Linked DNA regions of Homo sapiens: regions 1 and 2 are each linked to region 3. Evidence: fine-mapped QTL for protein levels in blood plasma. A gene starts in region 3. Each other region holds a variant in brackets. All regions are shown on one strand. Distances are between the middles of the regions.

Region 1 (2,756 bases), 25 kb after region 3:
CAGAGCTGTAGAACCGCAGAGCTAGCCAGGCCCCTGCCACATGCTCCTATCTCAGGAGGACACACTTCTCCTATGGAACATGAGTGAAACATGACCCGATCCTCAAAGCCTCTCTGCTTAAGCCAACACAAATGAGGATGTGGGGACAACCAATGACAGTGCAAGATCACATGCTGAGTATACACCTTCATTCATTCATTCAACAAATACAGGCAGCAGCTACTGTGGGCCAGGCTCTGTACAGGACACTGGGGGTCAGCCAAGAACTAGAAAGGCCCTGGCTTCACAGCCTCCGTAGGTATCCGTGAGGCTCACAAACAATCTCAATGTGGTGAGCCTCTCTGGAGGGGCAGGAAGCACAGCTATGGGAGCTGGGATGCAGAGCTGGGATGCAGAACAGGGGACAGACCCCGGGTGGTTCAGGGGAGGCTTCCAGAGGGAGCTGATGGCCAGCTAAGGCCTGAAGGATTGTGGGCGCTGGCCAGGAGAAAATTGGGGAAGGCTCTTTCCAGGCAGGGGCAACACAGTGCAGGGAGGAGAAGGGAAAGGGAGGGAGAGAGGTTTGCAGGGCAACATAGAGAGGCAAGGCTGGGGACAGCAGCAAGGCCAGAGGATGAGGAGCTAGCAAGCCTGCTAAGAAGTGTGACTGGAAGCCGAGAGCAGTAGGGAGCCACGGAAAGGCTTTGAGCAGTGTGTGAGGGGCCAGGCATGCACTCCAGAAACCTCCCTCCAGCTTGGAGTAGGGGGGCTGGAGGCAGGGAGACCACAAGGGAATCCATGGCCTTGATAACCCTGCATCTCCTGCAGGACACACACTTAAACAGGAGGCCAGAGGGCCGCCAAGCCTGAAGTAGGGACACGTTTCAGGAGGGAGTGGACTTACAGGGTCAGGTAAGGACCAGGTGGTCTAGCCCCAGCCAGACCTCCTCTCTGCCTCTGTTCTTAGAAAACAGAGTTTTCTAAGAACTGGCTGTAAGGGCCACTTCTGGGACAAAGGTCAGGGCAAGTTGGGGAAAAGGTGTAAGGGATGCTCAGGAAGGAACTTGTCGAGCTTGTGTGTGGCAGGACCACATGAGCACACTTAGGAAGGAACAGGGTAGGATGGGAGCCCCGGCCTTGCCAGCTCCAAGCCCCTGCACTTCACTCCAGAGAAAGCCTTTTCTCGCTCTGCCAAGAAACCCTAATGGGTCAGGGGAGAAGTCGAGGCCTGGAGCAGTGATGGGGCTGTTCCTGGACAGATGGGAGTCAGAGGACAGCCCTGGCCAACTTCCTAGGA[G/T]CCCAGGAAGGGCCAGGGCAGGGAGTGGCAGGAGGCTGAGTGCAGCCGTTCCTCTGCAGCTTTGAGGAGGGCCCAGGCCTGTTCCACTCCAGCCTCAATGAAGTGGCATCCCTCCTGCAGGGAGGGTGTGCCCAGGCTGGTCTCAGAGCGCTCTTTTGTGCATGCCAGACCCCAGAAGACTGTAGGAGCCTCAGCATACATCAACACTCCCATCCATCTGCCCTCACCCCACAGCGAGGGCAGGCAGGAAATGGCACAGGCTGCAGCTGACCTGGCTGAAACCTGCTGACTTTCTCCCCTAAATGGGTCGCACCTGAGAAAAGCTTTTTGAATATTCTCCAATGAGATGGCCCCAGACTAGGCCTCTTTCCCTGCTTCTCACAAAGCCAAAAGGATGAAAATAACCATCAATGGCAATAAGAACTAGCATTTATTGGGCACTTACTGTGCCTTTTCATTTAACCCCATCACTGTGTTAGGATGGAGCTATGCTCAATATCCCCATTTCCCAGGTAAGAAACTAAGGCTCAAAGAGGTTAAGCAGGCTGGGTGCAGTGGCTCATGCCTGTAATCCCAGCACTTTGAGAGGCTGAGGTGGGCAGATCTCTTGAGCTCAGGAGTTCAAGAACAGCCTGAGTAACAGTGAACCACCCCCCGAATCCGCCCCGTCTCTACAAAAAGTAAAAAAATTAGCTGGGTGTGGTGGCGCACACCTGTAGTCCCAGCTAAGGCTGAGGTGGGAGGATTGCTTGAGCCTGGGAGGTCGAGGTTGCAGTCAGCCAAGCTCACACCACTGCACTCCAGCCTGGACTGCAGAGAGACCCTGTCCAAAAAAAAAAAAGAGGTTAAGCAACTTGCCCAAGGTCACACAGCCTATAAAACCACCTACGTTTGAACCTGGATCGAGTCAACTGCAGGTCTTAATCATTCACCTGAACTACCTCCCTAGACTAGAAATGTCTCAACCACACATACAGCACCTACTGTATACATGCGTGCTATGTATGCCAGATGTGGGGAAGCCCAACAAATCATGTAAGGGGCTCAGTGTCCTCATCTATATGACCAAGAACAACACAAGGATTGCTAAGGATCCAGTAGTCTTTAACCTTTAGTGGGGCAGAGAGTCCTCAGGATCTTCCAGCTATGCTGGCCGCCACCCCCACCCCCAACACTCTCCAATTGCAGAATCATTCACAAGCGCACGCGATCACAAAAGCAGCCCCATGGGTTCATAGACTCCTTCCAAGAGCCCCAGGTGAAGCATTCCGTTCACGCTACGTGGCTCCCGAGAATCCTGGAGGGGCTGCTAAGCGAGCCTGCTCGCGCCACCTGGACAGCCTAGGCCTGGTCCCCACCCTCCTCCGTAAGCCTCGGAGCTGCCATCCCCTCTGCAACGCCTCCATCTAGCGGCGGAGAGCGCGAACTGTAACGTTCCTCCAGAAGACTCGGTTCCCTGGAGGGCTTGGCCTTCGGCCAC
Region 2 (2,756 bases), 14 kb after region 3:
CCCCACAGACCTGCATCCCACCCCACAGGACCCGGCGGGCCTTCTCCCCAGCCTGAGTAGTCAGAGACTAGTTCAAGGCTCTAGAGCTGAATTCGGGGCTGGGGAGCAGGGGAGATGCCAACAGGGAGGTCAGAGGGAGGGGTGCCACAGCTGGGCCTGTGCCTCAAGAGTCAGAGCAGAATGGGTGGGTCTGATTCAGAAGGTAGCAGGGATGTGAAATGGAGCCTGCTTTCCGGTCCCTGTAAAGAAAGGGAACTCCAGGTGGCTCGTCCCCATGTGTGGGGTTGTTCCCCAATCACATGGGGAATCAGAAAGCAATCTGGCCATGAGGCAGGGGCCAGGGAGCTGTGGCTTGTCTGGAAGCTGCACAGCAAGTCCAGTGTGCGGTTATTTGTGGAGGCCTTGAGGGAGAATTGATGGAAACTGTGGGGGGCAGCCCCAACCCCAAGCCACCTGGAGGCTGCCTACTTTTGACAACTACAATATCCCTGCCAACAAGCTCAGGGGCAAGGGTGTTACCAGGTCTGCTCTGTGCCTGAAGGACTTCAGCTCAGAGAGGCTGAGCTCCTACTCAGAGTCACACAGCACTGCTGGCTGCCCTGAGCACTGGCCACAGCCTTCCTGACTCCCTTTCCAGGGCTCCCCTCCCAGAGTCCTGCCCTCCCACTGCAGTTCTCAGGCCTCCCCTTAAGGGGCTACAGAAAGGTCTAGAATGCTGGCCTCATTGCTAGAGATTCTCTCCCTCTGGAGGGCTAAGTGGAGCCCAGGCAGGCACATTTTTAACTTTCTCTCCCAGGGGACCCACTTGGGGCAATGTTGCCACATGACCTGGCATCACAATCTCACTAACTGGCCACTGGACAAATTCACACATCTTACCACATGGTCCCATGGTCTGGTCCCCAGCATGGATGTGGTCTGAGCCTATAGCATGGGGTCTGTGGGATTTGGGAAGAACTCACACGTGGTCTTGCAATGTGGTCTTGGCTCTGTGGTCTCCTGGCAGCATCCCCTTGCTCAGCAGGTGTGCTTCGCCTCCTGGCCCTCATCTTTGCCATAGTCACGACATGGATGTTTATTCGAAGCTACATGAGCTTCAGCATGAAAACCATCC[G/A]TCTGCCACGCTGGCTGGGTGAGTGGGGCTCACTGCTGGGGGCAGGAACTGCAGACCAGGCCTGGGGGCCGAAGACATATTCTTCCCTCCATCCCTAGGTGACCCAGGAGACATGACAAGCTGTGCTGCCTTTGGGACCCCAGCAATTGCAGGGAGAGGGGGCACCCCCAGACTACCAGGAAGGGTGGAGTCCATGGGGAACAGAGGTGCATTGCAAGGGCCTGGGCAACACATGTGCCCACATCGAGGACCACTTTGAAAAGGTGACCCGAAGAAGGAAGGAAAGAAAGGAGGAAGGACAGAGGGAGGAAGAACAGAAGGAAGGGAGGTGGGAGGAAAGGAAGAAAGAAAATCATATATTGAGCGTCTTCACCTGCACCTGCTGCTCCCTCTTCCTGTATCTCTTCATGCAGATCCCCCCCACCTGCCCTCCCACCTGGCTCCTTCTCAGCCTTCGAGTTTCAGCTAAGGTTGCCCTGCTAAGATTGCACCCCTTCCTCCTAGTTTAGCTTCTCTCATGTCAGGCTTTTCCTTTCAGAACACCATCATTATCTGTCATTATGGTTTTTATGTTTCATTGTTTGTTGCCAGTCTCCACACCCTAGAATGTGAGCTTCCTGAAGACAAGGATTTTATTTTGTGTGCATCCACCTCTCTAGTGCCTGGCACAGAGCAGATGCCTAGTAAACATTTGATGAGTGAAAAAAAAAAAACGGATGGATGGATGGATAAATGGGTGGGTGGATGGATGGGTAGTTGGAAGGATGAGTAGATGGATGGATGGGTAGATGGAGAGATGGATGGATGGATGGATGGATGGATGGATGGACAGATGGATGGACAGATGGATGGATGAGTGAAGAATGGCTGAGTGGGTGGGTGGATAGATAAATGGATGGTTGGATGGGTAGATGGAGGGATGAGTAGATGGACAGATGAATGGGCAAATGGAGAGATGGGCGAATGAATGAGTGGGTGGAGAATGGATGAGTGAGTGGGTGAATGTGTGAATGGCTGGATGGATAGATGGAGGGATAAGTAGATGGATGGGTTGGTGGAGAACAGATGAGTGGGTAGATGGATGGGTGGATGGGTAGATGGGTAGATGGAGGGAAGGGTGGATGGATGGATGAGTGGGTGGAGAAGGGATGAGTGAGTAGATGGATGGGTGGATGGGTAGATGGGTAGATGGAGGGAAGGGTGGATGGATGGATGAGTGGGTGGAGAAGGGATGAGTGAGTAGATGGATGGGTGGATGGCTAGATGGGTAGATGGTGGGTGGGTGGGTGGATAGATGAATGAATGAATGAATGAATGGATGGACAGGTGGAAGGATGCTGGATGCTAGCTGCTTTACATGCATAGTCTCATTTAACCTGCACAAATGTTCCACAGAGTGATCTATGGTGTGGTTGTGGAATGGACTCAAGCACAATCCTTGATGTGGTTTCACATGTGTTCTGAGAAAACAGAAGCTTGAGGAGATTTAAAAACTCACCCAAGTTCCTCTTGGAGATATTAGAACAAGAACGGGAACCCAGGTCTCCCAGATTCATATCCTTTCTGATCAAAGGAAGAAGTGAAGGGAAGGGATTTATATCTCTGGATTCATCCCGCTTGAAGACCAAGAACCATGTACATT
Region 3 (2,756 bases):
GTCTAAAGGTCCACACTACGTCCAGATAGCCTTTGTCACAGGCTGTCGTCACCTGTCCTGCTGAGGGCCCACTCCTCTTCCCCAGAAATCATTTACTCTCCACTACGGTGCTGACACCCCACCCCTCTCTCCCTTGTGAAGAGGGTATACAAGCTTCTAAATCTTACTGGGTGTGGGGAATTCCTTTTCTTTCCTGGGATGCCCCCATGCATGTGATAAATGTCTGTACCTTTTCTCCTGTTATTCTCCCTGCTGTCAGTTTAATTCCTGACCAGCCAAGGCAGCTAGAAGGGTAGAGAAAGCCATTTTTACTCCCCTACACTTGTGTGCTTATTTATATTGGAAGTGAGGGTCAGGAGGGCCCCCCTGAGGAAGTGACACTGCAGGTCAGGTCTGAACAAGACCCAGGCACCAGTTATGGGCAGAACCGTCCTAGCAGAATAAGGGAGAGCAAGAGGCAAGGAGATGGGACAGAGGACAGGACCAGTCCTAAAGCCAGTCAGAGTGAAGGAAAGCACTGCCTCGCCCTGGGATACATCCTGAGGGGGCCCACGTGCCTACCTGGGGATGGGCAGCTGGAACAGCAGAACTGGGGCCACTCCCGGCACCTCATCACACAGGGTCCGCTCCCTGCTCTTCCCTTGCACCAGCTCCCTGGGCATGCATCTTCATTTCCTGACCAGCTGCTGGACCTCATGCCCCTGAATATTCCTTCCAAGTGGGCCACACAGCCTACGGAAGCATTCAGAGTCAGCAAACAAGGGAGGAAGTTGCCAGGAGCCTGTGTGCCAAGGACCGAGGCAAGAACTCCTCCTAAGAGGAAAGCGCTTGGGAAAGAGACCATGATTTGTGACAAAGACTGGGAGTGCTGGATCAGGGGAGGGGGAAGCTGAGCCCCTCTCAGTGCACCTTGGGTCCTAAGGAGAGAGAAGGGAGACAAAGGCTGCATTCACCATTTCACTAAAAGTCTGCCACTGAGCAGCCCTTCTTTTCTTTCTCCGTCTTTCCCTTTCTCCACACCCCACCCCCTCCACCTTTAACCTCTAATTCAATATGCCCCACCCAAATCCAGAATCTTTTCCCAAACCACTTCCTCTCCCCCATCTTCCTCACTCTTGACCAAGAAGCCTCCCTTTTCCATCATCCAAGCTCAATATCTTGCAGTTGCCTTTGACCTCCTCCATCTTTCCTGTCCTGAGTTTCTTGCCTGGGTTCCCCTCTTTCCAGTCAGCCCCTCCAGCACCCCCCCACACTCTAGTCCAGAACCTCAAAGCAGGTGATCATCAGCTGCAGTTACTCGCTCTACCAGCCCCACACCTCCCAGCGCCTGGGGAGGTTGTTAGCACAGGGTCGGGTTTTTTGTAAGGTTTTTTGGCTGTTTTCGAAGGCAGATTGTGGTATCTCATTCCTGATTAAGTTGCTTGAATTCCCACCCAAACCTCCCTTGCCAAGGTCAGGATAGCTCTACAGGAAGGGAACAGGCATGGCCCTTCTCCCCAGGCCCCAGCCAGGCCCTAAGCCACTCCTCAGCCAGGCAAGACTTTAGACTCATTTCCTGCCCCGTGAGCACTTAGAATAAACTTCCTCCTTCCTTGTGAGATTGTTTAACAGGGCAGGGAGAGTTGATGGCAAACTTCCTCAAAGGAGGGGCAGAGCCTGCGCAGGGCAGGAGCAGCTGGCCCACTGGCGGCCCGCAACACTCCGTCTCACCCTCTGGGCCCACTGCATCTAGAGGAGGGCCGTCTGTGAGGCCACTACCCCTCCAGCAACTGGGAGGTGGGACTGTCAGAAGCTGGCCCAGGGTGGTGGTCAGCTGGGTCAGGGACCTACGGCACCTGCTGGACCACCTCGCCTTCTCCATCGAAGCAGGGAAGTGGGAGCCTCGAGCCCTCGGGTACGTCCCCCCAAGAATGGAAAGGGCTATGGTTCCAGGTACACATGATTGACAGAGGGGAAAATGGAGGTGGGGAGGGTGGGAAATAGGAGTGAAAGAGCCTGAGACAGAATGATGAAAGGAAAGAAAGAAGGAAACCACATAATCGAAGAGATTCCTGAGATCAGACTCAGGAAGGCAAATAGATTTCATCTGAGGCACCAGGCCTGATCAATGAAATTAGACTGTGATAAAAAGGATTCTGGGGCTGGGTTCGGGCTCAGGCAAAAGCATGCTATGATTGATTAGCTATGTCTGCCATGGGCACAAGAAGGAGCTGTAGGGCATGCCAGCTAGGGATTTGATAACCCACACTGCAGGGTTTTTTCCTTAACCACAGGGGCCCCTCAACATTTATTCTTTCATTCACTCATCTATTGATTCAAAAAAACACATTCCAATGATCAACAGTGAGCCACACAAATATTTGAAAAATGAATAAAAAAGAAAGGAATGTTGTTCTTTGGCCCCAAATCTCATTTTTCTCATAAGGTAATGATCTGAAAAGTTATGACAAAGGTGCATGGACTTGAGAGATTTTCTAGCTATGTAATATTGAGCTAGTCCCTTTCACTAAGACTCAGTTTCCTCATCTGTAAAATGGGAGAGAGAGTCTGAATATCCCCCATCAATCGCTGAAGTTCTCATTGTCTACGCAACTATGATAATCATCACTGAAGTACATAAAATAACATGTATGATGTGCTAAGTGCTCTCCATATAATAACACATTTAATCTTCCTATCACCTCTACAAGGAAAGCACCATGATTATTCCCACTCTGCAGACGGAGAGCCAAGGCAGTGAGAGATTTAATAACTTC

Which allele goes with the higher level. Positions count from the first base shown, and alleles are read on the strand shown. Strength reflects both the effect of a copy and how common the allele is.
As copies of T replace G in region 1, the plasma level of the protein whose gene starts at base 1,696 in region 3 goes up (weak association).
As copies of A replace G in region 2, the plasma level of the protein whose gene starts at base 1,696 in region 3 goes down (strong association).

What was found. PIP is the chance, under the fine-mapping model, that this variant and not a neighbour inherited with it causes the effect. The UK Biobank Pharma Proteomics Project read protein levels with antibody pairs (Olink). The fine-mapping took linkage between variants from a reference panel, not from the people measured, so its PIPs are less certain.
Region 1: its variant is fine-mapped to the plasma level of the FAM3D protein (UK Biobank, PIP above 0.99).
Region 2: its variant is fine-mapped to the plasma level of the FAM3D protein (UK Biobank, PIP above 0.99). The variant lies in the coding sequence of FAM3D. If it changes the protein, the assay may bind it differently, which can mimic a change of level.

What each region holds. Positions count from the first base shown.
Region 1 is chr3:58,640,731-58,643,486 of GRCh38, reverse strand. The region is part of intron 6 of FAM3D (FAM3 metabolism regulating signaling molecule D); the gene reads left to right. Among named protein-coding and RNA genes, the nearest start is that of FAM3D, 25 kb to the left of the region's middle. RefSeq lists enhancers at 2,055-2,555, 2,556-2,756 and a silencer at 2,594-2,753. The variant G/T (reference allele first, on the strand shown) is at 1,277.
Region 2 is chr3:58,652,050-58,654,805 of GRCh38, reverse strand. It overlaps FAM3D (FAM3 metabolism regulating signaling molecule D), which reads left to right. Exons shown (of 10, transcript NM_138805.3): 3 at 1,025-1,132. Among named protein-coding and RNA genes, the nearest start is that of FAM3D, 13 kb to the left of the region's middle. The variant G/A (reference allele first, on the strand shown) is at 1,115.
Region 3 is chr3:58,665,714-58,668,469 of GRCh38, reverse strand. It overlaps FAM3D (FAM3 metabolism regulating signaling molecule D), which reads left to right and starts at 1,696. Exons shown (of 10, transcript NM_138805.3): 1 at 1,696-1,894. LOC105377109 (a long non-coding RNA gene) reads right to left here. Exons shown (of 3, transcript XR_940879.3): 2 at 562-917.